4 separate regions of the Homo sapiens genome follow, and all the other regions are linked to region 3. The links come from fine-mapping of genetic effects on gene expression. A gene starts in region 3. Each other region holds a variant in brackets. All regions are shown on one strand. Distances are between the middles of the regions. Region 1 overlaps LINC02781 (long intergenic non-protein coding RNA 2781). Region 2 overlaps LINC01777 (long intergenic non-protein coding RNA 1777). Region 3 holds the start of AJAP1 (adherens junctions associated protein 1). Region 4 holds the start of LINC01777 (long intergenic non-protein coding RNA 1777).

The links. PIP is the estimated chance that this variant, and not a neighbour inherited with it, causes the effect.
Region 1: its variant is the best candidate, but not a certain one, in a credible set for the expression of AJAP1 in esophagus muscle (GTEx, PIP 0.69).
Region 2: its variant is the best candidate, but not a certain one, in a credible set for the expression of AJAP1 in T cells (TOPMed, PIP 0.59).
Region 4: its variant is the best candidate, but not a certain one, in a credible set for the expression of AJAP1 in whole blood (TOPMed, PIP 0.64).

The regions. Positions count from the first base shown.
Region 1 is chr1:4,975,323-4,982,759 of GRCh38, forward strand. It overlaps LINC02781 (long intergenic non-protein coding RNA 2781), which reads left to right. Exons shown (of 5, transcript XR_946902.2): 4 at 1,640-1,769. Among named protein-coding and RNA genes, the nearest start is that of LINC02781, 5.6 kb to the left of the region's middle. The variant A/G (reference allele first, on the strand shown) is at 3,998.
Region 2 is chr1:4,420,414-4,427,850 of GRCh38, forward strand. It overlaps LINC01777 (long intergenic non-protein coding RNA 1777), which reads left to right. Exons shown (of 6, transcript NR_027088.1): 4 at 2,347-2,774; 5 at 2,935-3,035; 6 at 3,581-4,271. Among named protein-coding and RNA genes, the nearest start is that of LINC01777, 12 kb to the left of the region's middle. RefSeq lists enhancers at 2,600-3,100, 4,658-5,159. The variant G/C (reference allele first, on the strand shown) is at 2,137.
Region 3 is chr1:4,650,362-4,657,798 of GRCh38, forward strand. AJAP1 (adherens junctions associated protein 1) reads left to right here and starts at 4,248. Exons shown (of 6, transcript NM_018836.4): 1 at 4,248-5,093. The coding sequence starts at 5,065. RefSeq lists an enhancer at 2,239-2,288.
Region 4 is chr1:4,411,462-4,418,898 of GRCh38, forward strand. LINC01777 (long intergenic non-protein coding RNA 1777) reads left to right here and starts at 590. Exons shown (of 6, transcript NR_027088.1): 1 at 590-1,171; 2 at 4,092-4,126; 3 at 4,851-5,087. The variant G/T (reference allele first, on the strand shown) is at 4,390.

The DNA.
Region 1 (7,437 bases), 320 kb after region 3:
GCATCAGACCTGGCTGGAATGTGGAACTGCCCCTAGAGAGAGTCTCTACCTGCAAAAGGAAGTCAAAAGAGGCACCTCAAAGTAGGGGCTTGGAGCGATGCACCAGGCTTGTAGACTGGGAGGAGGCCCAGAGGGCCCTTTAGTTACAAGGCCTTGCTCTTGCTGGTGGCTGACCTAGGGAGGCAGTGGACAGCTGTGAGCCAGGGCTGGAGTCCTGGAGCCCTCCTGGGCGCATGTGGAAATCAGCTTCATGAATATATAGCAGTCTGTGCTGGGAACACCTGTCCCTCGTGGCCTTGAGCATAAATTTCACCCCGCTTTTAGACATGAGAATGTTCAACGTTCTCCAGAGCACTGAAGTCTACAAACACTCTCTTTGCCCCTTCTGAGCTGTGCTGTTTTACCAGCTTCATTTCTTAGAGCGCTTGGGTACGGGACAATTTGTTTGCTCTTTCTTCTAGGTTTCCCTCTCACCAAGTTTGCCCCACCCATTCTGAGCTTGACAGGCACCACTGTCCCTGTGTTCCACATGAGCAGGCTTGTTCATTGAGGGACGCTCATTCAATTCACAGAGGGGGCTCTGCTCCACAGCTTTCCACTGTCCCTTAGTCTGCAGGGCAGGGCATGGGACAGGTGCTCATGAGGAGCACCTCCTGAAGGAGGCATAGAACGAAATTCACTGGATTAGGAATTGCACCATCCAGAGCCTCAGGGGTGCTAGCTTTGTCCCTGAGCAGTCTCTGATGTTTATCATGTCCAGAAGTAGACAGAACTGGGAATCATCTAATCAGGTGTCGGGAGGATTCATCACTTGGCACAGGTGTGAGTCCCCGAGGTGTTCCCGCTTTTCCGTCATCTCGGAGGGACCTGCCTATGCTGACTGGTGGGTCATCAAGATTAATAAAGACAAAGGCTTTGGCGGATGCTCAGCTCAGGAAAAGCACCTGGAGCTGCTCTTTCCTGACTGATTAATTAGGGAAAGACGTGGTGGCTGTAATTGGCGGTTGAGTATTTTCTGAATTTTAACATTCGCGGTATGCAAATCTATCAGTTTCTAACAATATCTAACAAGATTATTTGAAAGTGAGAGTCTCCCAAGAGATGCAGGCATGGTTCGGGGGAGATGTGGGGCTCTTCCGGGTTTGTATGCACTCATATAAATCAACGGAACGTTTGTTACCAATTGTTACTAACGTTCTTCAGCAAATTGAGAGATCGACCAGTAAATACGCATTAAACATAATCCTATCTACCTGTTGCATTTAATTCCAGCAGCGAAGACCCATTACACTACTGAAGTTTGATGAATGTTTTCTCTCGCTGCTCATCTGACTTGGAAACGAGTGTGTTTGCTCAGGGCGGGGGTAGGGGGTGGGGGAGTCATGTGCGAGCCTTAGCTCCTTCAGTTTCCACGTGGAAAACTCTAAATTGAAATCCGTACCTCCAGGGACCGTGAGACCAAAGAGAAAACTGTTGGGCCCCAAAGGGACCATTTCCTACCATAATGAGAATTTTAAATGGCGGGTTTGAAATTCCTTGAAAAGCCTTTCAGAAATGTGTGTGCAAATGATGGTTGCTGAATTACTGACAGAGATGCAATTAAATTCAAGGGAGAACGTCTCCTTATTCTAATTTCCAGCCTGAAGACCCTTCTCCCTATCCCAGGAGGAGCCCAGGAACGCAAGCGAGAGCCTCTGCAAGTCACCCCAGCTGCCGCGTTTCCACCCAGGAGGAAGACGCACGTGGGGCGGCACGAGAGATAGACGGAGGTGAGGATGGAATCGGAGATGAAAGGCCCAAGGGGTGGGGCCTGGAGTGGGGCCCTCCCGACATTTCCTTCCCAATGTATTGACCTCTTCTTCTCTTAGACACAGACTAACTAAACCTGGGGGCAGTGTCCGACTGGAGCCAGGGCCCCCTCCCACACCACAGGAATCGGCAATTCCAGCGGCCTTGTTCTGAGCTGTGGGGTGTGGGGCTCCAGTGAATCCCAAGTGTATTATCTCCTTGCACCTTCAGCACTCCCTGGGCAGTGCACACTCTTCCTACCCCATGTTACTGAGTCCTCATGAATCTGCAAGGCTTTAGAACCCAGTGGGCAGAGCAGGCAGACCAGGGAGGCAGCTGCTTCCACAAGTTCCTGGCTGTGAGACCTTTCTGATGAGCCTCCTCTCCTTTGCCTGTAAAATGGGGATACCCTGCTGGGATTATCCATGCCCTGGGGTTGCTGTGAGCGTTCAGTGAGGTAACCCATGCCTTGCAAGGGTGCTCTGTCTGGCCAAACCCATGGCGAGAGTCACTCCAAAATTGACAGCAGGGGAGTTCCTGCAAGAGACAGCCCCAAACTGTTCTGAGATGGGGCTGGCTGGAATTCCAGAGGGAGAAGAAACAATTGCTGGGGTCCTTGCTGTAAAGCATTTACCGGGGGAATTTACATACAGCGGCTGAAGCCCCGTGACAGAAAGCAAGGAAAGGGATGTTTTGCCCACGTATGTCCATGATGAGGTCACGGTCTGGCGTTTGAGGGTTTAGGGAACTTGGCTCAAGGTCGGACTGGTTTCTACATGTTTAGCAACGTGGTCTCTCACTGACTGCTGCAAGCAACAACCTGAACGACTTTATCAGTGCCTGGGAATGTTCCAGAGTTCAGCTTGGGTTCAAGCCTGTAGGAGAAAGCCTGCAGCTGGCCGGGTCACAGAGCAGTCAAGGCAATCTGGGCTACTCGGTCAGGACACAGAAAGAAAGCAGTGAGGACTTGGGAGGACCTACAGTGGGCTCAACAAAAGTGGGTCTTGTTATTCCGGAGGTTAAATCATCTGACCAGCACAAGAAAGCAGTGAAGTTGGGATTCCTACCAGTGGTTTTGGCCCCAGAATCATCTCCACATGATACGTTTAGAAGGACAGGGGCCTCGTCAATGCCTGTGGGTGAAAAGATGCCCTTTCTCTTTTCTACTGAAAGTGCCCCTGTGAGACCAAGGCTACTACCATTCAACAGAGGCAGGAATGGAGGTGCACAAACTGACTCCCTGGGTCAGTATTTCTGCTGCTTTTCTGGGTGCCAGTGGGGTTAGGTTTCATGCAAAAAGCCCACAAACAGAGGTTACTCTTCAAAGCCACTGCCCCTTTTGAAGACAAAAAGCGGGGAATGTCACAGCACCACAGCTGAAGACCAAGAGGTCCTGGGAGAAGCAGGGAGTGGTTAATAACAGGAGGAGAGCCAGGACTTTGCATATAAGCTTGCAATGCACCCCATCAAGACTTCCCCGGGAGCTTTTTCCTGTGCTGGGGAATAATACAAATGTGCCCATCAGTGCAAAGGGTGCAGTGAGGGCAGGAAGTTACAGTCACCATCAGGGTCAGCCAAGGAACAGTACATAGCAAGCTGGGTGAGACACTCTGTGCCCCAGGCAGGGCCACTGGGGCGAGTTGGGCCTCAGATGTCCTGCTTCTGAATGAGGGCCTTGAACTCCGTGGTGCCTACATCCTCTCCAGTTCTAAAATAAGATGACATTTAACGAGGTCCCACTGTGTTGATGGGGCACCGCAGCGACCTCGTGTTAAACAGCACCATATTGTTGATGGCTTGACCAGATGCCGGGAGCACGTGATCTTGCTACTGAGTCTCCGTGGCCTCCACTTGGCGGCACCCAAACAAGAGACAGCAGTGTGCAAAGATACTGGGTGTGGGTTTCTCTAGTAGCAGAGAAACAGAGCCTTCTGTGCTTGCAGGGTGCTTGCCCTGCCCTAAACAGCATGAATCTGAACCCCACCCATCCGAACAGCCTGGGGAGGCAGGATGGAGAGACGTCAGAGGGCGGTCACCAGTATCTCACTGCACAGGGGCTGGAGGTTTGTGTCTCGTTAACCTAATGAGGTGACGGTAACTTCCTGCCCTCACTGCACCCTTTGCACTGATGGGCACGTTCATGTTATTCCCCAGCACAGGAAAAAGCTCCCGGGGAAATCCTGATGGGGTGTAGCGCAAGCTTATAAGC[A/G]AAGTCCTGGCTCTCCTCTTGTTACTAACCACTCTGTGCTTCTCTCAGGCTGTCCTGGTCTTCGGCTGTAGCACTGTGACATCCCCCACTTTTTGTCTTCAAAAGGGGCAGTGGCTTTGAGGAGTAACCTCTGTTTGTGGGCTCTTTGCATTCCTTCTTGGCTGCTGGGCTCTGGAGATCCTTCAGTGATACTTCAATGCCATTGATAGCAAATGCTTCAAACTGGATCTTGCTGTCCCATCTCCACTGGGCAGAATGGGCTGACCCCACATGAAACATGTGGGGAGATTTTAGTACTAGTCCATCATAAAAACATTTCCTCTCAGAATTTATTTGGATAAAGTAAAGCAGATGAAAATCACCAACTGCCTCTTCCTTCTATTTACTAAATTAGTAAGCTGATGAATAAACCAACGTATATTGAGTGCTTACCCTAGGCCTGAGACTGTGCTAAGTTAGTCTGTGATCTATTATTAATTTCCTCAACAAGTTTGTTCATTAGTTCAATAGGTGTTTCCTGGCCTTTAGCCATGTGCTGGTTATTATTCTAGGCTTTGGGGACAGAGCAGGGAATGAAACAGACAAAACGATGCAAAGCTCCCTCACGCCCAGAGGGAGGTAACTTCTAAATGGGGAGAGAGGTGACAGCAAAGTACATGGGTACAATAATAAAATGCACTAGACAGTGGTCGTGAATGTAGAAAGAAACAAAGTGGTGGGACTCAGGAAAGGCCTCAAGGGGAACATGACCCTGGGCAGGGTGCGGAAGGCAAGGGGTGCCAAGCAGGCAGGGCCATCGGGGGAAGAACACCGCAGATCGAGGCTCCTTGGCAGAAAGGCTGGGGCAGGAATGGGAAAAAAGAGACCATAGGCATAGGTGGAGGCAGATAGGAGGGAGGTCAGAAGAGTGGGGTGGGGTCCTATGGACCATTGTGAGTCCTTGAGTTTTTATTCTATACTGTTCAGGAATCAAATGTAGGGTTTGGAGCAGTGGAGGCACCCAATCTACTCTCCGTATTGGAATTAAACTAGGAGGAGGCAGAGGTGGGAGCGGAGTGGGAAGCTGCGCGGGACCCATTTGGATGGTCTAGAGGGCCCATCTCGGGGTGGCAGGAAGGTGGGGAGGTGTGGCTGAACCTGAATAGATCCCCTTTATCCTAGGATTGAAAGAAGTAGCCAGTGAGCCAGATAAGATGAGCCAGGACACACGATGCTGATGGGTCAAGGAAGGTCAGTCCTGGGAGCTGACCACAGATTGGACTGACCCAGAAGACAGTGCCAGCTCCCTGAGGAGGGGCAGCTGGGTGGATGCAGTGAATGCCAATCCCTCTTTTTGGTACCAGCACCTGGGTTTTCCTTGGGGAGAATGCTACTCCCTTAATATACACATCTTGCCAAGCTGTCACTCAAGAGGCTCAGTTTCCCTTGGGTAAGGCAGGGATGGGGGGCTCAGCTAAGACCAACAGTCTCTCCCTCCTGAAATTCTCATCTTTGACTGGCATAAGACAAAACAAAACAAAACGACAAAAAAAGCCACGAATTACCCCAGGAAGAGGCGCCGTGAAAATACTACATGCTCTTCCTCCTGTTCCCTGGGTTTGTTCTTCCTCCTTTTCCCATTTCCTGTTTATTCTAAGACTTCCACTTCAATTCCTCTATCCCCTGTGATTCCAATGACCTGTCTTTGCAGAAGAGCTTTAATCAGCTGGTCAGTTTCTAAGGCTTTCATCCAAGGAACCCTCATTGATGTGAAACAACAAAGTGAGACTTCCATCCTCGAATGTGCAGCCAGGAAGTGGCAGAAAGGAGCTTTGCATAAACTTCTTCTCATTTCAAATCCTATGCTCTTTCTCCCACGCCTCAGCCATTTGCCTTTAAAATCAATTGCATCCTGAAGTGAAGAGCTTTGCAAGAACAGTGCTATCAGAAACAACCATACTCCACCAGAGCAATCACAGCACCTCCCAGAACCCCTGGGACTTTTGCTTGGACTCGGGCAAGTGAGTAGACAGCTCGGATGGGGCGAGCACCTGCTGGTTCATCCACCAAATATGAACATGGCCCAAGAGTGAGACCCCAAGACCCGAAATTGCACCAATGACTATAGCTATACAAGAAAATGCCACTGGACAAATTTTGCAGAGGTTTCTTTATTGTTGCTGTTCTCAGCAAACCTAAGAAGTCATTTCAGTTTGTCTCAGTTTTTGTAGAAGAACAAAAAGTTCAACATTAAACCATGTGTGTAAGTAGCGTGGAGTGTTTACTCTGCCTGATCTATAGTTTAGGACCAACAATTTCCTATAGTGGGTAAATTTACCCAATGATGGTTTAAATGGTGTCTATAATCTAAGCTTAATATAGTCATCTAATACATTGACTATAGGCACAGCCAAGTTGCCTGCTTTTGATTCCTTACTCATTCATGTGGATATGTACCCAAAGAAATCTCTGACTTACACTTTGCTGCTTCTTATTTCTACTTCCTAACAATACACTACAGACAGAACACCCCCCACACACACACTTACACACGTGTGCCATCACACATCAGCACCACACAAGCAGTCACATACCCTTCATGCATGGATAGATATGTGTATTAGTCTGTTCTCGTGCCACTAATAAAGACATACCTGAGACTGGGTTATTTATAAAGGAAAGGGGTTTAATGGACTCACAGTTCCACATGTCTGGGGAGGCCTCACAATCCCAGCGGAAGGCAAAAGAGAAGCAAAGGCACATCTAACATGGCGGCAGGCAAGAGAGTGTGTGCATGGGAACTGCCCTTTATAAAACCATCAGATCTCTTGAGGCTTACTGCCTATCATGAGAACAGCTGGGGAAAGACCTGCCCCCATGATTCAATTACTTCCCACCAGATCTTTCCCATGACACACAGGAATTATGGGAGCTACAATTCAAGATGAGATTTGGGTGGGGACACAGTCAAACCATATCAACATGCACATCATACACACATACAAGCACACAAGCACAGAAACCACCAGACAATACACCCACTGATTTTTCCGATAATTCACTTACATTTTGGTGGGTTTTATCATCGAAAATGTCCTGACTATTCCCTTCACTTGACAAAGTTCAAGTTCACTCTTTAAATCACCAACTTTGAAAGAAAGGAAGCAAGACAAAACTTTCCACTTGGCTTTGTTCCTCTCCTAATTTCTTTATGCATATTAAATTTTTATTGTTGACATTCTTGTTTAGGGGGAAAATCATTGGTTTGGCTTTTTTTTTAGCTATCAGATGTTTTATAGACGTTCTAATGGCTCATTTGGTGTGAAATTAATTATCAAAGATTCGCAGAGAGTTTTAAATTACATTTTCTCTGCTCTTCAAGGCAAACAACTGGTACTGTTTTTGTCACTAATATAAGGTTCTCATTGCTGCCTTTTTTCTGTACAATGAAATGATAAAAA
Region 2 (7,437 bases), 230 kb before region 3:
CCCTTGTGCATGCGGGCCCTTAGTCCACTGTGTGCCCCACTGTGCAAGTTCCTTTATCTGCACAAAACGTCTGGTATAAGCACCTGTGGGACAGGTCAGAGGTTCTCTGGGGACCCTTCCCTTAATGTCTGCCTAAAGCAAGCTGGCTAACTCCTTTCACTGCCACCTTGATTTCATCCCAGAAAGACCCATTTCAGACTTTGATCTCCAGAACAATGAGCTAATAAACGTGGGCTATTTTCACTACAAGTTTGCAGTAATTTATTATAGGACTGATAGGAAAAAAACCACAATACTCATCATGCTCTTCTTTTCAAACATTTATTTCATTCAGCCAATGTGTATTGAGTGCTTACTTTGTATCAGCCATGGATAAGTAATCAATATGAAATGTTGGCTGGGGACCAGACATAATTGGTCCCTGCCCTCATGGAGCTTACAGTCTAGCTGAGAATACAATGTTAATCAAATGGGGGGAGATTATCAATTGTCATGAGGGCTGAACAGGATGGGTACATAGCTCATGTCTTCTATTATCCCAGGCAATTTAGCAATGTTTCAGAAAATCACCCTGAGCCCACCCTGCCAGCCCTCATCCAGCCACTTCCTCTTCCAAGGATGAGAGAAAGGCAGGGACATAGCTGGCAGCAGAGGCCACCTTGTCCCCAAAGTGCTGGGGGACCTGTTCATCGGAGTGAAGCAGTTGACCAACTGCCCTTGACATTCCACCTCTGACCCTTTCGAGGCCAGATTGGTTGGCCAGGCTGCCTCCTTCTGTCTGTTTTTTTTTTCTGCACTGTCAATCAATAGAAAAGGCATCAGAGACATTTAAGAAGCACAACTAATCAGTGAAGCATTCAATTAATTAGGCAATCATTTTTCTGCACTTGATTTTCATTACAGTGAGTTTATTTTCATTTCTTGTGTAGGAAAAAACAGGTGCTCACATTTAGCTTCATCAGCTTCCTGTTGCCGTTGGATTCACGTATTATTTTAAAAATAGGTTTATTTTAGGGGAAAATGTGACCTGGGAAAACCCACTCGTATTTACTCCCCAAGGTTGCTGCTTTTGTTGTGGTGTTGGTGGTGTTTCTCCCTGCCCCCCAACACTGGGATGGTTTAAAAACATAAGTGAAGCTGTATCACATTCCACCAACCGTTGCTGAAGCCTTTGTTCCTTCTCAAAAGTTATGCCTTTTCCTTTCTCAGAGAGGAAAGAGGCCTAAATTTACATTTACTAGGAGCCTCTGAAACAGGTTATCCTCAATGTAGGTGGTGGGTAACATTATTTCCTAAAAGGCAACTGTGTTCACCCACTGACAGTTTCCAGGCCCCTCCCAGGGGGCTCAGAACTGCTGTAAACCCAGACCCAGTGGCATAAGGCTGGACGTGAGCCCAGCTGCAAACCCAGAATAATGACCTGCATACACACATTTCTCACTGCCTCTAGGATCAAATCCCCCATTCCGAGGCTCTCAGATCCCAGGATGAAAATGCTGCTGCCTGAGTTGGAATTGTCCTCGTGGTGCAAATAGCAGACTTAACAACATTCATGTTAATTACTTTTCCTGAGTGTCATTCTAAAAGAAAGAAATATACCAGTCTGCTTTCCGTTTTCAGATGATGTTGGCGGTCTTGTCCTCCAGCCCAACTACACTTGTGAGGTCTTTAAAGCACAAGTGAAGATAGTTAAGCTGCCCCTCCCCATCTCTCCCTCTCTTGTCTATTTTTCCTTTGTTTGTGATACGAAGGGTTAATGTAAAAATAGATGTTCTGCAGGCATCATAGAGTTCCTCTTTAGGTTCCCATGGAAACCGAGCAGCGCAAGTATGTGAAGAATTTTTTTAAGTTAGCCCAAGATTTTGTCCTCCAAAGATTTAGGGTCATTCTGCCTTGTGGTTTGGGGGCATTTTTTTTTAAAGTTTTTTTTAAGTAATTAATAAAATAACTTCACCTTCCCTCCATCCTCCCCAACCTACTCACAGAGCATTCTTTTATTTAAAGTGTCCAACACAAAGGTTATTTTGTGACATTTTGAATAATGCAACCCCTTAAGGGTATTTTTTTAAAGTTCTTTTGCAACAAAGTTTCTCCTCCCCAACCTCAGAAGACGGAAACAAAAGAGACATTTATTTC[G/C]TTCGATTTAAAGTGATTTGGAATTGCTGCTGGGGTTAGATTATGGGAAATTGCCCACCAGGGAAACAAACTTGGTCACCACCCCTGAACTGCAGTGATGACGTCCCATGGGGACACACAAGACAAACAAAATACTGAGAAAACCGAGGTTCTCACTCTGCCCACAGAGGGAGCTCCGAGTTGCAGCTGCCTCTTTCTGCTCCTTTTCAGTTCAGATAAATTGCACTTGGTCAACGGAAATGTCCTAAGGGCACTGCAGCTGCAGCTGGAGAATGAAGAAGACATAAAATTAGGGCTTTTGTCACTGTCGCTTGATTTCATTAAAGGGCATTAGTTCTCGGCGAGATATATGGGGTTGGAGAGGACAGGAGCCAGAAGCTCCCAGTGCAGCAGCAAGGCTGGCCCACGTGAGCACCTGGAGCATCATTTCTGCTGCCACATGCTTGGGCTGCCCCACCCCGCCGTGCCCTGCTCAGCCGTGCCCTGCTCCATCTCCCTCGCCAGGCCTGAGACCGGCCCCCAGTGTGTTGTGACTCCTGAGGTCTCTCAGCTCTCCCTCAACCCCCAGGAGAATTGCTCTCCACTCCAGAAGCCGCCTGATGGGGAGGCTGACCCCTCTCCAGGACTGACTGATCCAGGTACAAAGGGTCCCCTTGCGGCAGTGGTGGAGCACCCTGTACAGCAGTTTGGGCTCTGGGCTCTCCTTTGAGATCAGGCCAATGCCTGAGTCATCCTGGCTTGACAAGGTGGGATGAAGGTCTCCTCCACCTCCAGGTTCCTTCCTTCCCTCCTTTATAGGTTTATCCTGACAGTAACCTCTCCCCAGGTCGGAAGACCTCTCAGGCTCTGTTTCTAGGGAGGCTGACCTGCTGACAATGCTCCTAGCTGGATTTTGTAAGGTAAATATACCCTTTTATATGGGTTGAGTTATGTCCCCTTAAAAGATGTCAAAATCCTGACCGCTAGTATCTGAGAATGTGACCTTATTGGAAATCGGGTCTTTGCAGATCATCAGGTTGACAAGAGGTCACTGAGGTAGGCCTTACTCCAATAAGAAATGTCAAAGGTCAATGTCAAAGGATAAATCAAGTGTGTAAGGTCAATGCCAAAGGACAAATCAGATGTGAAAGGTCCATGTCAAAGGTCATATGAAATGTGTAAGGTCAATGCTAAAGGACAAATCGAATGTCAATGGTCAATGCTCAAGGTCACAAGTGTGTTCCTGACAAGGTCTTTCTCATTGACCAAGCTTTTGTCTGTCTTGGCCACCCCCAGTTGCAGCCCAGTTGCAGCAGGAGCCCTGCTGAGTCCACAGTGAGAGTCCCTGTCCCTGGGTCTCCTCTTGGTGGTTCCATCCACCAGCTCCTCATGGGCCCCCAGACTACAAATCCCAGGTGTCTTCATTGCATTTGGCATTGATCTCAGTCTCCCTCCTCCATTGCAGCGGTCTTGAATAAAGTCTTCCTCACTGTTTTAACAAGAGACAAGGTAATGTTCATTGAACATCTTATACAAAGAGGAAACCTGGCACAGAAGTGGACATGCACTCGGAGGGAAAATGCCAAGTGACAATGAAGGCAGAGATCAGGTGATGCATCTGCAAGCTGAGCAACATCAGGAATTGCCAAAAACCACCAGGAGCTGGAGAGGCCTGGGACAGAGCCTCCCACGGAGCCTCAAGGGAGCCAGCCCTGCCCACGCCTTGATCTTTGACGTCCGACCTCAAGAACTATGAAAGAACCCATTTCTGTTGGTGAAGGCTCCCCGTCTGTGGTCCCCTGTCCTGGCAGCCCTAGGAACCTGACCTCTGGTCCCTCTGCATCCCTGGCATCACTCTGCCTCCCTCTCTTTTTCTCCAGTGAATCCAACACACTCTCAGTGAGACAGCCAGGTGGCAAGGGGTTCTCGGAGAAACTCCAGCCGGCCTGCTCGCTGGGCATGTACACTGGAGTGGAGCCACAGAAGTTCACGGTGTTTGCAGCAGGGAGGAGCCTGGCCACTCCTCTTCCTGGTTGGAACCTGGAATTTATTTTGTGAGGCGGGAAGCCTATACTGGGGAGACTCTTGCTCTGCTGAGTCCCCATTCCCCCTTTATTTTCCTTTTTGCCCAATAAATCCTATTATTCTCAGTCTTCAAATTGTCTGTGAGCCTAATCTTTCATGGCCATGTGACAAGGACCCCGTCATTAGCTGAGCTAAGGAAAAGTCCTGCGACATCAGAAGGCTGAGTCCCAGGTCCTTTGTTCCAAGAGCTGAGCTTCCTCATGGGATGTGGGGAGGGGGGTCAGCGCAGGTGATCGGGAGGACTGAGGCTGTTGGAGGGGGACCCCAGAGGGAGGCTTCAGTGGCTGCATCCACAACTGGGCCACCTGGGCATCCTTCTGAGGCAGGTTTCTCTCCACGTGCATGGCGTGGCCCTTCCACACAGCTGTCACAAGCTAGGAGGCTCACATGCTCTTGGGATTCTCGGGACATCATGGGTCCCTGAGGGTGGCGCAGGCTGAGGGTGTGCTCCCCCGCCGGCCTGGCACAAAAACAGTAACATTAACATGCTTCTCCAGACCAAAGAGGCTGCTCTCAGTGTAATCAATGATGGCAGGGACTTCGAAATGTGCGTTTCCAGTGAACAACAATGTTTAGCCGCATGTAGTCATCAGGCACACCTAACTGGCTCCGGAAAGTGTTATGTTGTGAATTAAGATGACTGACGGAGAAATGTCAGTTTTATTAACATTCTTCCTTCGGACGATAATTTTATGTCTATAAGGATGAATTACAAAGGACTTAATGAAGGCGTCAGTCCAGAATGATGGGGTCCTTTTAGCAAAGCCTGCTTCCTTTCCTCGCTCTGTGTGTGGAGGTTTGATCTCTGCGTGGGGTATGGTTTCCACGTGCTGGACATGATTGGGCAAAAAGTCAACAAAACAGGCTGCTTGGCTTCAGGCTGACTGTGTAAAAGCCTCACCGGCTCAAGGAGGGATCGTCCTGGGCCCGACGGCAGCGAGTGAAATAGCAGCAGCGTTGCCATGGAAGATGGTTCCGTGGCACCCAGACATCAGCAGTGGGGCTGATGGGACTCACATCCACTCCATCACGACTTCATCTCCCAGGAAAGTGTCCTCCGGAGCTGGGAAGGTTCTTCCTTTGCCTCAGTCCCCGTTTCCTGCTCGTGTTCTGCCCAGGAGCCTGTGCAAAGGGCCCGTTGCCTCTCTCCGGCCCCTTGTGATGACTCCTCTCTGGGAAGTCCCCCACTTCCCGCACATTCCACTCTAGAAATTCCTTCTCTCTGCAGCGATCTGGTCATGTTTTCAAAAGGTGAGGTGCATTTTCAATTCTCAGCTCGCACCTAAGCTTCTGGCAGCTTTCAGGTGCCCCTAAAAATGGCATCCAAGGCTTCATCCTAGGCTACAGCCCCGCCCCCTTTCCGCCTGTGCCTCCTCCCACGGCCCCACCCACTTCCCTGCTGTGCCTCTTCCCACAGCCCCACCCCTTCCCGTGCTGGGCCTCCTCCCATGCCCCGCCCCTTCCATGCTGTGCCTCCTCCCATGCCCCGCCCCTTCCCGTGCTGTGCCTCCTCCCATGCCCCGCCTCTGAGCTCTTGCCCTTGCTGTCCCCTCCCCCCGGCATACCGTCCCCCTGGAAGCTTCCTTGCCCTCTCCGTTGTGTTGTGAGGTTTGAGTCAGGATGTCATTTATGAACAGGCCTGCTCTGAGCTCCCTCCTTGAGCTCTCCCCACCTGGTTCCGTGTTCTCACCTGCAGATTAGCCACTGCTGAGATCTCCTGCATGGACTTCCTACTTATGGAGGATCTCACACATGCTAGAAGGTTTCATGGGGAGGCCCTGGCTGCTCTGTCCAGGGTCTGGAGCAGGGCAGGTGCACAGCAAGGCAGCTCACTGCACGGTTGTTTGCGGAATGAAACGACTTTGCCAAAGCCATGGCCGCAGACATACGATGCTCTAAACATGTTTGTTATAACCATGTAAACACGCTTCTTTAGAAAAGCTTATTTCTTAGGAAACCTCTTTCAGTTTCTGTGGCAACAACTCAGATATTCCTGAGGTCCAGAAATGCGGCTGCTCTGCACGCTGGTCATGGGCCTCTCCTCACCTGCCCCCAGGACGGGAGCATGGGCTCCATCTCTGGGCCTCCTGAAAAATGAGATGTCGACTTGAGTGGCCTCCGACCCTGTGAGGCTGATGTCATCGCTCACCAGGCTGAAGTTCAGCCAGGCACTGAACCTTTCTCAGGCCCTCAAATTCAAACCCAGACCAACCTGTCACTCTCCTTTCCAAAGCATGGGCCACTCATCATGATCAAATGTCCCCTCTTCAATCTACACACTGCTTGGCATTGCCTGTTTGACTGTGAGAGACTCTGTGTCTGTGTGCATGCAACTGTGTGTGTATGTGAGCGTGTGTGACATTGTGTGTGTGTGTATGTGTGAATACAAGGAGGAGTGAGTGACTAAGAATGTGTGTGTGGGCATTTATGTGTGTGAGACAGAGTGGTGAAAGACTGCAGAGGCTAAGTGTGGGTGTGTCTGTGTGAGTGTATACAAGATGGGGAGTATGTGAAGCATGTTGGTGTGTGAGTGTGTGTGAGTGTTAGAATGTGTGTGAGTGTCAGTGTGACAGTGTGAGTGTGTATGAGTGCGTGTATGAGTGTGAGAGTAAAATTGTGTGATGAGTGGGTTTGAGGTGGTGTGCAAGAGTGTGCAACAGATTGTGTGTACAAGATGCAACAGAGATAGAGTGCATATGTACATAAGTGTGTAAACATGTATATGATATCCATGCATATATATATGGTGTGTGCCTAAATGTGCAGATGATATATAGTATACTTATGTGATATGTGTGTATAAACATGTATGTGATATAGATGCATGTATATATTGTATATATGTGACATGTGTGTAAACATGTACATGGTATAGATGCATATAAATATGTGATGTGTATGTATACACATGTATATGATGTGTGTGCGTGTGTGTGTGTCTTGGGAGGGCCTTGCTAGTCAGGGTGTAGTTAAAACATCAGCTGGGATCCTCCACCTACACAAAAACAAGGCAGTCAAAGGAGAACTTCACGTGGCTTGATGTCATTTCAATGAATGCAGAGTAGTGTTTATCTCTGGGCCAAATTCAGAGGCAGGGGATGGGTTTCAAGAGGGGCATGCACATGCAAACACACACACATATACACATGCATGCATGTATACACACTTGCATACACATACATACACATATACACACATGCACATATATACACGTACACACATATGCACACATACACG
Region 3 (7,437 bases):
AAATTAACCTTCTTTTTCTTCATCCCTCTCTATCTAAATAGAAGAGGCAAACTGATCAATACAGAAGATCCATAAAAGCCTTGAGATGAGAGTTTTTCTCCATTCTGGGCCAGATCAAATTCTTAGGTGGCCCTCTTTCCATCTGTACCCGGAGGCTATCACTTGCTCAGAGCAAGCCAAGGAATCCCGTCTTCCTCTCTCTGATGCATGGGTACACTTTCACAGGCAGTTCAGACCTGGCATTTTCTCTTGCCGGCCAGTGCTGGGCTGCAGGATGATTGTCTTGTGAGTCATTTTGTGGGTGGGAGTACAGCTTCTTGGCTCCCACCTCTGCCCCAAGGCTTGGTCTCTGCCTTGCGCTCAGCTATGCGTGTAGTGCAGCTGTGTGCAGCCTCACCCAGGAAACAGCTCAGGTGCCAGGGGGAGGAAACCCCAAATCTCCAGCATATAACCTCCCTGAGAAGGAAAAGCGACTTTGCGTCACTCCCCCTGCCCCCGACAACCATGAGCTTCCTGCAAGTTTTACTGGGAGGGGGGTAGCCAGGAAGATAGGAGAGTCAGGGAAGACACTCCTGTGAATGCTTTCAAGAAACTTATAATAATTTTAATCAGCATTTTCCCTTCCATTTAAAATCACAAACTTAGCTACTTAATCAAATGTCATGGTTAAGACACATTTACCTCCTTGGGAGAAAAATGAACAATGGCAGCTCAATTTGGCTTTGGATGGGTTTTAAAAATAGTCAAGTCTGTGAAGGCCATTAGATAAATGGCCTCAGAGAGCTTCAAAGAGGACCTCCTGCAGGGGCCTGCTGGCTCCTTTGTTGGGAAAATAGGGGAGGGGACTAGGTGAGGAGACCGCAGGGGTTCCCCAGGGTTCCAGGCTGTGGACTTCCCCCAGCGGGGAGAAAGGGCCAGAATTAGCAGGGTGACCGGAAGAACTTTCCACAGCATGAACATCTGAACAGTTCCCTTTTGTATCGCCGAAGCTGGGAGGCGTGTGTGTGTGTGTGTGCGCGCGCACACGCGTGTGTGTGTGTGTGTTGGGTGGGAGTGACATACACACAGCTTCCCAATCCCCAAGGGAAGAAAAATGAACCAGTTAGAAATATGAGAGCCATCAATGTATAGAAAACCAGTTCTAGAAATGCTGAAATGCAAGTTAAGGTTTTGTCGTTTTACAGTCTGTAAAAAAAAAAAAAGACAATGATTTTGTCATCGAAATAATAATAATAAGCTGGGCGCGGTGGTTCAGGCCTACAATCCCAGCACTTTGGGAGGCCAAGGTGGGTGGATAACCTGAGGTCAGGAGTTCGAGACCAGCCTGACCAACATGGTGAAACCTTGTCTCTATTAAAAATACAAAAATTAGCCGGGCGTGGTGGTGCACACCTGTAATCCCAGGTACTCGGGAGGCTGAGACAGGAGGCTGAGACAGGAGAACCTGGGAGGCAGAGGTTGCAGTGAGCTGAGATCATGCCATTGCACTCCAGCCCAGGTGACAGAGTGAGACTCCATCTCAATAATAATAATAATAATAATAATAATAATAATAATAGGTGGATTGCTCTTTTTGGAGAGAGGCAGACCTGAGTTACCCTAGAGAAAAAGGAAATCAGTGTACCCTGGTCCCAAATCCTAATTTTAAGCCTGGGTGAGGGCAGAGGGCATCCTCCGTCCCCATAGACTGAAGAAGCCCTCACTCACCCGGGGCAGCAGCTGTAGTCTTAAGGCTCTGACTTCGCCTGGAGACTTCTGCAGGGCTTGTTCCCATCTCGGTTGTCAGAAAACACTTCCTTCTACTATTTTCTTTGTCCAGAGATTCCCAGGGTACTTGGATAGAATTCAAAGGGTCTTTCAACTCGTATGGGGGAAAACTGGCATCTTTATTTAACCCTAACTGAGACTTGGCATTTCCTTTCATTATCAATGTCGGTGGCAGAGCTCAGTGCCTGTGACCGTCAAACATAGAAAGCACTGGCATTTCCATATCACACTGCCATGGCTGCAGTTACCTCAGGATATTATTGCTGCATATCTGGACTTCAAAAGGAACGTAATTTAGGATCTGTCAATTGCTTACTAAGTGTATTAATAAATAATATATACGGCTATATCAGAAATTTGTTTTTATTACTCTTTTGATAATGCATTTGCATAGAATTGGTTTCCTAATAATCCTGGGCTTTTTCATCTATGCACTTAGAAGCCATTCTGAGAGAGGTCAGCAGGTGTCCACAAGGCTGCCCAAGGGGTTCCTGGAGCCGACACGGTCCGGTCCGGAGCCCCTCCCTGCCCTGCTGGCTCCTAGTGTGCGAAGCCGGCCCCTTCCAGGCCCACTCCGGTTGCAGGAAGGGCCTCCCTGGTGCAGCACCGCCTCCTCACACCGCTAGGTGGCAGCACTGCCGGCGCCTCCTTCCCCGCCGGCCGCCATAGGCCCCGCTGGTTCCAGGACCTCCCTGCCTCCTTCGCCTCTTAATGGGATCCGCTCCCTCACACCCCTCAGGGAGAGGCTCTAGGGGACGATGACCCAGGGGCGGCCCGGCAGGGAAACTGCTGAGTCACCCTGCTGCCTCTCGGGTCCTCTGACCGGCTCACAGATCACCATAGCCACAGTGTGTGTAAGGCCTTCTCATGGAGCCCTGCAAACACCTCCCCGGGGAGGGGCTGTGGGACCCATCTTACAGATGAGGAGACCGAGGGTCGGAGAGGCCACACAACTCGGCCAGGACCCCGAGTTAGCAAGCGCTGGCCCCTGGTCCAGCCACGGCAAGGCTGGCCCTCCTGCCACCACACTTCCCTGCCTCTGGCCCTCTGCCGGGAGTCTTGGTGGGGAAGTCACTGTCTTCATCCTCCTGCCCGGGCAGAGTCCAATCCTGTGCCTGGCTCCTCAAGACCGTTGGCAAAGATCCTGGAGGCCTGGGGGTGAAAGGGCTGCTTGGGGGACTTAAGCCCCAAGCTATGGTTCGCCTGGGAGACTGAGCCCCAAGCCATGGTCCTCCTGGCTCTGCCCTTCCACCCCCTCACTGGCTGCCCCTCCCAGGGAGGCCTCACCTGTGAAGTGCTTCCCGCCCCTCTCACCCCCCACGGCTCTCACATGGCCTGGGGCGATTCCAGAGCTGGCCTGGGTCAAGCACCTGCACAGAGCACAGAGCGAAGGCTCGGCATGGTATATCCCCCGCCCCTTGCACCTTTCCCCAGTGAAGGGTGGCACCAGTGTCCTTTCCAAGGCCCGGATTCTGCACTGCCCTCAGCCTGTGGAGGATTAAAAGCAGGGTTTTGCCGTGGTTTCTCAAGGCGTCAGCGGGTCTGCAGAGGATTCCGCCCCATGTCACTTCTCTCAGTGAAAGGTCCCCGCCCAGCGTCTGTCCTCCTTTAAGTGCCCCCCATTTGTTTTTTGTTGTTGTTTTTGTTTGTTTTTTGCAAATACAGACTAACCAGGTAGGCACAGAGGAGTCCTGGCATGGGAAGGGAGCAGTGAAACGCCGGTGGAGAGTCCGGGAGGCCCAGATTCCCTGGAACTTTCCAGTGACTCCTCCGGAGCAAGGGCCTGGCCAGGCAGCAGCTGCGCTGGGCGATGAGGGACCGTTGGGTAATTGGGGGCATAGGACCGGGCTTCGCTGGGTTCGGGGCAGAAGCGCCGAAGCTCCGACCCGGAACGCGGTGACTTCATCAACGCAGAAGCCCGCGCAGCCGAGCAGAGGAGTCCCTCGTAGGCGACCCTCGGACAGACGCTCCTGCGCGGCCCGCGTGGCTCAGCTCCGCCCCAGGAAACTTTTCGCGCAGCCCCCGCTCCATGCGCCCCCACCCAGTCCTTCTTCGGGGCCGCCCCCTCCCCAAAGTAGCTCTCCGGGTCCACTGGGCGCCCCCGTAACCGGGTCGGAACCTCGAACGGCTTCGCGTGCCATCCGGTTACCCTGGCAACACCATCCGGCGGCGCCCGGCGGTCCAATCCTAGCCTGCGGCCTCTCTCGAGCCTTTCGCAAGGTGGGGACCGGGACGCGACCGGGGATGGGGAAGGGGGCTGCAGGAGGCCCCGCCTGCGCTGTCGCCCCTGCTGGGCACAGCGCCCCCCACCACCCGCGGCGACCCCGGCCCCCGCAAGGTGGGGCGGCGAGCAGGAGCCGGGGCCAGGCCAGGGGCTCGAGCTCCCGTTCGAGGGGCGGGGAAGGCGGGTGACGTGAGCCGGGCCGGGCGGGCGGAGTTGGGACCGGCTCCGGGAGGCGGGGGCGAGCGCGCGGAGAGGCAGACGCGAGGAGGGAGGCGGCTGAGCAGCGCGGGCGGCTCTGCGGCGGGCGCGGTGGGCGCGGGCGGCGGGGCCCCGGGATCCCCGCGCGCCTCCTCCGCGCGGCGCCGCCGCCGCGCGTCCCCACGCCCCGCGCTCCACGGCGCCCTCGCCCCGCGCGCCTCTCGTGCCCGCCTCCTGCCAGTCTCCGGGCCGCGGCCGTCTGCAGAGCGAGCGCTCAGACGGAGCCCCCGGGCAACTTGAGTGGCGCCGATCGGCGGCGGAGCCTCTGGCAGAGCCCCCCGACCCGGCAGCGCGGAGGGGACTCGCGTCCGTCCGCGTCGCGTCACCCCAAACCCTAAGCAGCGCCGCCCCATCGGCGCGGAGCTCCGGCTGGAGGCAAGAGCCGCGCGCCGGGAGACACGCACCGTGAGCGGCAGCGCCGCCGGCCTCCCTCCTCGCCGCCCCGGAGGGCGAAGCCGCGGCTCCCCAGCCCTTTGCTGCGCCGCGACAGCGCCGGAACACGCCCCGCCTCGCTGCCGCCTTCGCTGTGCCGCCGGCGGAGGGGGCCGCGAGCCCCGCGCCCCGGCCGGAGGATGTGCGCCCCCGCGGGCCGCCCAGCCTGAGCCATGCGCCCCAACGGCGGCGGCGCGCCGGCCGGCATGGAGCCCCGCGCGGCCGCGCTCTGACTCGCTGTGCGCCCCGCGGCCGGCGGGCGGCGGGAGGCGGCGGACCGAGAGCCGGAGACCGGCGCCGCGGGACGGAAGCGAGCGGGCGCGGGCGCCGCGCAGATGGCCTGGGCGAGCCAGGTCTGAGGCCCCGCTCCCCGAAACGTGACCATGTGGATTCAACAGCTTTTAGGACTCAGGTGAGCGACCCGGCCGGCGCCGGGTGCGTGTGGGCGCGTGGGTGCCAGGCTGGGCGGAAGCGGCGCTTTCCTCTATGTTGCAAATCAAGGGACCCCTCTTCGCTTCCCGCAAGCGGGCAACGGGGTGCACCGGTAGCCGGAAAGGGGCGCCCGCCCGGAGCCTGGAGCAGCACCGCGGCCCTGGCGGGGAGCGGCCGGGTCTCCAGGGTTCCGCGCGTCCGGGGTCGGGGCAGCGGCGCCCGCCCCAGCAACCCGGGAAGTGGGGCCGGCCAGGCGCGCCCGCAGCTCTAGGAGCCAGCAGCGCAGTGTCCTGGCCGGCTGCCCCGGCGCGCCTCCTCCCCGGGGCCCGGGGCGAGGCGCCGGCCGCTGGGCGCGGCGGGCGCGGGGGCCGGGGCTGCCGGGGAAAGCTAAAGCTCCGGGCTCCCAGCGAGAGCTTCGCAGGCGGAGTTGGAGGAAACCACAGCCAAACAGCCACTCCGCTCCCCCTTCTCCTTTCTCGGGGCCCCGGGGCTGAGCAGGGGCCTCCCAGGCTCCCAGCTGCCGACCCAGCTGTTTGCGGGTGACCTCCGGGCCCGACGGGCGCTCACAGCTGGCGGGCAGCTGGGGCGGGAGAGCTGGGGTTCTTGGGGAGCTCCGGCGGCCACCCCGCTGTAAACACACACGCACATACGCCCGCCGGCGCGCCCGGGGCTTGTCTGTGTCTGGGACTCCAGGGCCAGATGGAAGAGGGGGTTCGAGCCTAGAGCCCGTGGTGGGGGTGTCCAGAAAGACCCTTCTCGGCAAACTTTGCCAGCCCGCCGGGGTTCTCGGGCTTCTCTGGCTTCTGCCTGGGGTGGCCCAGGGCCCACCAGAGCACAGCTGTCGTTTTTGCTGGGCAGGCTGCCTCTGAGCCCTCGCCCTCCTGCCGGGGCATTCACCGAGCTCGTGCATTTGGGTCCCGGGTTGGAACCGCGAGCGGGGAGGACAGAGGTGGAGGCGGAGAGCAGCGTGCGGTTCTCGAGTTTGTCCACTGGGATGCACTGCGCTCCCGCGTTGGGGACGAAAAGGCCAGTAGTTGTTAGCCCGCTGCTTGAGCCGCCCCCACTCAGGGATGAAGCTGCGGGGGGAGTGAGGCGAAGGGAGGGAGGATCTAGTGCGTGTCCTGATTTTGAGAAATCGGAAGGGGACTGGGACGCCAAGTGTTTTCTAGCGACCCTTGATTTATGAGCCGATTCTGCTCCCAGAGGTGAATACTGTGTAACACATCTAGTGAACATTGTCAGATGTTATTATTAGCATCCCTTCTCTCAGTGGCCGATCTTGCTGTGGGCTTCAAAGGTTAATCATGGAGCCGATTGTGTTGGGTGTGGGATATTGGTCGGGCGTGAATCGATAAGTGTGCTTGGGCTAGATAAGGTTTAGGCTTGGACCGTTGTGGGATGTTGGCAAAATGGAGCGAGGACAGCTTTGCAGGAATGACCCTGATCCAGGTGCCCTGGAGGCCTGCCATCCCCTGCTCTGCCCCGGACTGTCCCAGGTCTCAGCAAGACCTTCCAAGGCTTTGTGAATGACCAGACGGGTCCCCACACTGGCCAGTGGCTGGTCTTCAGCTCCGACCTGCTTCCTGAGCTGCCACTTGATTCCTGATGGCAACTTATTTGAACAGACATTTTTTTTTATTGCTAAGTTGCTAGATTAAAAGATGAGTACATTTTGATAAAGGGAGAGAAGAGCAAATATCTTGGAAAGAAGCCTCTCTTTTGATTTGAAATTTACTAAAACAGTTCCTCTCAAGCATCCTCAAGCCGGATCTTGGGATTTTGCTTTAGGAAATAGTTCTGTTGGTTCTTTTGAAGTTTGACCTTTCGTTTTTCCCCCCTCGATGTCAGCACAGGAGATTTTCTGTAAGTGTGCCTTTAAGGACGAGCTGTCACCTATTTGGGATCCTGATGGGAGAGCTCTGTCTTGTTACTGCTGTCTCCTGGCCAGAGAAGGAGGCCTGTACCCAGAGGGTCTGGGTGGTTTTGCATCACAATGGGCACCTGGGGACTCTGAGCCAAAGGGTTGCAAGTTCAAGGTCTGGAAATGCACTTTTTCTTTCAAGACAGCCCTTCACCTTTGCTTGCAAGCCACTCCGCGGCTCCCTAGGTGAGCACTGGGCGTCTTGCTGCCAAGCTTGGAGCCTGGTTAGGACAGGTAGACACTGAGCCTCCAGCTGGGGTGGCAGAAGGCCTGGCTTGCTCCACCATGGGAGAGGTGCAGTGTAACTTGCTGGGCAGGGGGTGGGGGTGGGGGTGGGGTGGGCTTTCTTAGTTCCGGCCCCAGAGACGAAGTCTGGGCTTGGTTATTTACGTCTGTGTTGGAA
Region 4 (7,437 bases), 240 kb before region 3:
AGTATTCTAGAAAGTTCCTGATGTCCTTATCGTTTCGTGACTCTAAAGTTTCGTCATGAAACTCAGTGTTTGCTTTTTCTCCTTCTCCTCAGCACCTTTTCCCCTCCCCTTCCTCCTCCTCTTCCTTTTGTGTTACTCTTTATCAAATAAAGGATGTCTTTGTCTTTTCTCTCTCGTTTCGGATTTCCTAGGAGGTTTCTGGTTTGTCAGCATTCTGTTTTGTTTGCTTCTCTTACCGGCCGCAAATCTGTACAGTTCTGCAGCAACCTCAATTCTTGCCTCCTCAGAAGAAAGAATTCGACTGAGGGGCATAAGGCAGAGGGAGAAACTGAGGCAAGTTTTAGAGCAGGAGTGAAAGTTTATTCAAAAGCTTTAGAGCAGGAATGAAAGGAAGGAACGTACACTTGGAAGAAGGCCAAGCGGGTGACTTGAAAGATCAAGTGCGTGGTCTGACGTTTTGACTTGGGGTTTTGTACGTCAGCATGTGTCCAGGGTCTTGCGTCCTTTCTTCCCTGACTCTTCCCTTGGAGTGGGCTGTGCACATGCGCAGTGCTCTGCCAGCGCTCGGGAGAGGAGCATGCGCAGTGTGTTTACTGGAGTTGTGCGCATGCTTGCTTGAGGCATTTTTCTCTTAACCAGCGCAATGTACTTAGGAGGTCATGCGCCGGTTAAACTCTGCCATTATGCCTCTTACTGGGCATGCTTGAGCCCACGGGCCCAACTCCTGAGATCCCATTCGGAAGCTGCTGATCACCAGTTTCAAGTGTTTCTGTTTATTGGGAGACTGCCTTCCTCTGGCACTGGCAGTGACCAATTATTATTTTAGAGAGACTGTTAACGGCCTGACCATCACCTGATGAATATCAGGAATGTGGCCTGACATTCCTGGTGTGTGTGGTGTGGGGTACGAGGGGAGCTCTCTCCTACGCTGCTCATGTCTGACTAGTTGGATTCTGCAGAGTGGAAGTGGGAAACTCCTTCTGACCCTGGCCACCTGTCTCCATGTGAAGGCAGATCCATTTGAGTGACAGTCCGAGGCAATACCTCAACTGCCTCTCACTTCCCAAGACAAATAAACCCACTTGACCTTGATGTGCTTTTTGTGAATACATTGTGAGATTGGACTTTCGGATATTTTATTTAGAATTTCTGCGTCTATATTCTTTGGGAGGTAGGCCTATAATTTTCATTTCTCATCATGTCCTTGCTCAGTTCTGATATCAAATTATACTGGCATCAGAAAATGAGTCAGGTATTTTATTTGCTTCATCTATTCTGGAACAATTTGTATAAGAAGACAATTTTCTGTTTCTTGAGGCTGTTGTGAAACTCTCCTTGAAAAATCACCATAATCTAGTGTCTGAATAATTTTTATAAATTTTATCTAAAAACCATTTCTTCTAGGTGTTCAAATTTATTGTCAAAAAGTTGTTCATGATAGTCCTATGATTTTTAACCTTCCTTTTGCATCTCTTTTTATGCTCCTAGTGATGCCTTGTGCCTGCTTTTTTCACCATGATCTGTCCACTCAGTTGACTATTTTTCTTTCATTAGTTTCCAAAGAAATATCTTTGGTTTTATCAATCAGCCATATTTTGTTTGCCTTTTCTGTTTTCTTAATTTCTGCTCTTATCTACTGTTGATTTTCTTCTCCTTCTTATAGGCTTACTCTCTCTTATTTTAGTAGGTTCTCGAATTGAATGATTAGCTCATTTATTTTATAACATTTTTAAATGCATTAAAAGCTATAAATTTACTTAAAGAATTGCTTTAGCTATGTCTTATGAGTTCTGACATAAAGTGGGATTTCTTTCAATCAATTCTAAATATTTTGTTATTGTTACTATGATTTTTCTTTAATCTGTGAATTATGTTATATGTAGTTTTAGTACATCTTTCTATACATATTTGTAATAAGTGTTTGTCTGCTTTTAGCATTACTCTTTTAAATGGCATATAGAAGGATTTTTAAGTTATCTAATTAGTCTCTGTCCGTGATAGGTAATATTGTCACATTTATTGTAAGTATTGGTATATTTATTTCTGTCTATTTTTGTTTTTTATAGATACTAGCTTCTATTTTCTCTATGTCTTGACTTGTTGTTTTTGATACAGCTTTTCTTATATCTTTTTTCCCACCAATTTGGAAGTTATTATAGTATATCTCTCCACATATTTTAGCTGGTAAACTTAAGTTGTTAACATAATAACTGTCTATTTTTCTAACAAAGTCTAAAGTTATTTGACGTTTCCCTCCTTTTCCAGTTTTCCCCACCGTACATTCTTGTTTTACATTTTAATTCAATACTCTTAAATACAAATTTCCAATTAGTGGTTAAACGCATTCAGCAAAATACTTTTATTATTATTTTTTTGCTCAGTATTATCTTTAGCAGACCACTCCTTCCCCTTTGGTTCACTTTTCTTCTTGTTGGAATATATCCCTCAGTAGCTTTCTCTGCAACCATCTGAGGGTGGTAAATCATGTTTTCTTCTAGTCCATATTTTAAAAATATCTTGGCCTCTTTTGCCCTCACTCTTGAACAATGGTTTCACAGGGTGCATCAAATATGGCATTTGCAGTTAGTTTTCTTGACAGTCTGAGGCTATTTATTCATTGTCTTCTAGCATCTACTGTCACTGAGGAGACATTTGTTGCCAGTCTCATGGTCTTTCTTTTGTCATGATATCTCTTTTCTTTTTGGTACCTCTAAATATTTTATTTCATCTTTCTGCACTGCAACAATGTTTCATCATAATTCATGTATACTTATATATATATACATTCATGTATATATTTATCCTGCTCAGCACTCCAAGTGTTTCATTAGCTGAAATTTCCTGCTTTTTCATTGAATCTAGAAAATTTCTAGCCATGCTTACTTCAAATATTGTTTATTTGCCATTCCCCTTGTTTTCTCCTTCCTGTGTGGCAGAATCTCAATTTCTTTTCCATATCTCTTAACTTATCTCTCATAAGATAAGATTTTTTCTCCGTCTGCTGCATTTAGAAGGAGCTTCACAACACTATCTTCCAGTTCACAAATCTTTCTCTGACCAGGTTCATATCCATTTGTAATTTTAAAAAGTTCCAGCCTGGGTGCAGTGGCTCATGCCTGCAATCCCAGCACTTTGGGAGGTCGAGATGTGTGGATCACTTGAATCCAGGAGTTTGAGACAAACCTGGGAAACATGGAAAAATCCCGTCTCTACAAAAAATACAAAAATTAGCTGGTTGCAGTGGCACACACCTGTAGTCCCAGTTACTGGGGAGGCTGAGGTGGGAGCATCACCTGAGCCTGGGAGGTTGAGGCTGTAGTGAACTGTGATCACACCCCTGCACTCCAGCCACCTGGATGACAGAGTGAGACCCTGTGTCAAAACAATAAATAAATAAATATATAAATAAATAAATAATGACTGTATGTTTTACTTCCAGAATCTTGAACTGAGCTTTGAAAAGTGATCTGTTTTTAATTCATATCCAATCATAATCTTTCCTTATTTTTCATATATTTCTTTCTTTACATCTTTGAGACCTTTAGATCTTTGAGACCATAGGGTATTCTATAGACATCTCGAGGTTTCCTGTTGTTTGCATTTCACTGGTGATGAATGTCTTAACTGATAATTGTCGCTTTAGTGTGTAAATCTTCTTCATGATGTTCAGAACCTTCTATTGAGTGGGTCTCTCTCTCCCTTCTGCCCTCCACCCAACCCCATTTGGTGGTTTCCCAGGTGCTTTTTCTCTGCCCCTGAGAATCCTGGTCAGAACCACATTGTATTGGAGGCCCCTGCTCCTGCCTGTCAAGATCCTGGGGAGAGCACAGGTGCAGTCACAGGGCAATTGGCAGCTTAGCCCAAGTCTGGACCACGTGACTGCTCTGCTTCCATTGGGACCGGCTCTCCCCGGCCTCCTTTCACTCGCTCCAGGTTTCATACATGAATCTGGCTGGGGTCTCCTGCCATGTGGGGTGCCTGGGTCCCTGTCATTTTCAGGAGCCAGATCCCTGCCACTTCCAATAGACTCTTGCCCTGGAGCCCTGCATGTCCACAGCTCTGCCTCCTCCTAACAATTGCCTCTATTGCAGGTACACGGAGCGCCTTCTTTTCGTTTAGAGCATTGGTAAGTACCTAAGTATAAATTCGATTGACCTTTGCTGTGTTGGAGAAGAGAGGACAGTTCCAAGTTTGAACTCAGTTGCAAAGTTTCCTAGCAGTCCAGCCCCACATCCCCCCAGGGCTTGGCTCACTGGAGATGTCTCTGAGTAGGAATGAACAAAGCAGAGTCGGTTCCTCCAATCTCATGTATTTTAGTATTTTAGGGTACTAAGAGTCTTCTCCCTCTGAAGTTATAGAGAGGGAGCTTTCCAGTGCAAGGAAGACCCA[G/T]GGCACAGTCTGTTCCTGTAACCCCAAGGCCACCAGGAGTCTACAACCAGGCTCCTTATCCAGTGGGGGGAGTGGAGCCTGCAGGAGAAGAAGGCAGGACCCATCAGAGGCCTGATGGAAACAGGGTCCCCAGCACAGCTGTGTGGGGGGCAAAAGCCATGAAGGGAGATAGTGAGGCTGCTCTTGGGTGGGCTGGTGATGCCATCTTTCCTAATGAGATGTTAAATGAAGTTATGGCAGACACAGACTCCACTGATTTGGGAAAAGATGATCAATGAATTCCCATCTTCAAGTGCACTTATTAGCTGCTGCCTGACATGACAGACTGAAAAACTTAGAGATGAAATTAGTGGTGTTGGTGTGTCATGACCCAGCTCAGTCTGAGTGGATATGCGTGTGTGTGTGTGTGTGTGAAAGAGAGAGAGCGAGCATTTTCTTAAATAACTAAAATTCTCTCGCAGGTGTCTCCACATTAGAAGCATCCTATGTAGCTGTTCTGCTTGCAGCTGCCCAAGTCTGCCTGGGCCTCCTGCATGAGGTCATGAGTCTTAATAAAGCCACTGACCCACACATTTGGAATCGTACTGACTTTTCACAACTAACAGCCAACACATTGCCAAGAAGCAATTCAATTGTTGAGGATATCACATCATGCCAGGGAAAGAGAGATGGAATTCAGAAAGCCTGGGATATTGCAGGTAATTACTAAAGCGTGTAGTTTATAGATCAATTTGCTCCATCTACTCAAATCCAAATAGTCTAGGACCTCAACTGCATGAAAATCTCTGTAAATATTTGTGTTAAAAGCCCCTTGGTAAACATTCCCTGTGGTGCATTTGGAGCCCAGGCAATAAAAGATGTTTTGTTTCAGTGCCTTCTTCCCACGATTTTAAAAGGAAATGGGAGAACTGTGCAGTCACACTGACATCCCGCATCCACGCGGAATCTGCTCAGCCACGGTGGAGCATCCATTGGTGCACCGAGGGGGATGGCAGGGGCCCCAACACACAACACGATTTATATCAAAGCAAGGAGTGGCCAAGTTTTCTCTTTCTAAAAATTCGGTTGCTTTAATTTCATGTTTAATGTGGCACAGACCCTATCCTATAAAGAGGGCGTGAACAATTGAGCAGCGTTAGACTGCACTGAGGTGATAACATTGATTAAACAAAAACGGTACCTGTAATCCCAGCACTTTGGGAGGCCAAGGAGGGTGGATCACAGGAGGTCAGGAGTTCAAGACCATCCTGGGCAATTTGGGGAAAACCCGTCTCTATGAAAAATAGAAAAATTAGCTGGATGTGGTGGTGTATGCTTGTAATCCTAGCTGCTTGGGAGGCTGAGGCTGGAGTATCACTTAAACCTGGGAGACAGATGTTTCAGTGAGCCAAGATCACGCCACTGAACTCTAGCCTGGGTGTCAGAGCAAGACTTGGTCTCAAAAACAAGTTAAAAAAATTAAAAAAATAAATAAAAAGAGGTAGACGCGAAACTGCAGTTACGGTGACCAATAGTCATCCGTGTTCACGTCTCTTTAAAAATTTGTATTACAAAAATATGTGTATGTATATGGCCTCTACTGAATTGAAAAGACCTGACATTGATAATGCATTTCATAACGAATATAATTTGATGATGTGATGAACATAATGCATCCCTAATAATCTCATGATTCTTTCTTTCCCTCAGCAAATAATTTTAAGCTTAGGTCATGTGTTTTAAACTGTGTTGGAAGCAGGGGCACTGTGGAGAATGTGCAGAAAGAGCTCTCTAACCGCACTTAATTTTCATTCTAGTGAGGGGGGCTGGTGGCTTCAAGAAACAAGTCAACAAAGGAGGTTATTTCAGGTTGTGATCATTGCTAGGGAATAATCACAAAGGGGCCGGGCAGTGACAGGTGTGTGCGTGGGGTGAGGCAGCTCTGAACCCTTCTCTTCTCCATGGCAGGTTCTCTCCATTCTCTCTCTCAGGACCCCCCATTCTTCATTCATGAGGCTTATCATCATTCTCTCTTCATGAGCCCCATGTGGACAGGGGCTTTATCCATCTCCTTTGCTTGGTCATCTCTGGGTCCAACATCCAGCCTGCCTGTGGCCGTTAATATTCTGCATGAAGGGATCAGTCTACACACAGAAACTTTGGCTGCCTGGTCTTGTTTCATGATGACTCTGGAATTATCATAATCCCATTCTTTTTAATTATTTCCACCATTCTGCTGTATGCAGTTTATGTTACAATTATACGTTGGCAACTAAATCTTTAATTGTCCTCTACTCATTTCATGGATCACTAGGAACCTTCCCCCCCGCCAACTAAATTACTTCTCAAGGGCAGGGATATGTCTTCAATTTCTTTATTACTCCTCACCATCAACGCATTTGAGCACTAATGTCTGGGCCGAGCCCAGTGCTCCATCCATACTTGCCGACATTGTAGAATGTGTATTATTCCCTGCGCAGTCAGTGGGGCTCTGCCGCTGGAAGAGAGAGGAAGCTTGGATAATTGAAATATCCCCATCTCAGACATTACTGACTAAGGTTAGGTAAGGGCAAGTCAGACTGACTTTCATATCTTGGGGTTTTATTTCCTGCTGTTTCTTGTATGTATTCTTTCAGAAAACCTTAAGAAGGAAAAGTCTGGGCCACAGAGAAAACAGGGAGGTGAAGAAAGATTCTCAAATATTTTTCTTTAGAAGTCAAGAGTTTGCTCTAATCAGTTTCAAGAAACAGCAACAACAGAACCCAAAGGCCATGATGAATCTGTTATGTCCTCTCTCCCTCGTCCCTCCTCCTCCTTCCTTCCCTCCCACTCTCCTTCTTTTGGACACAATCAGCTCCAAATGGAATAAACAAGGAAAATGATGCTTAGGTGGGTTCCACAAACACTGACGTGCTGATCACCATGAATGTGCTGGAAATACAGGATGCACAAGGTCTCCAGGAGTTCATGCCTATTGGACTTGGCAAGTGGACGAGGTGGGTGTTAAAGAAGGAACAATCTTAGTAGCTGCAAGTGAGATGGAGCACACATATTTGGATGGAGTGGGTT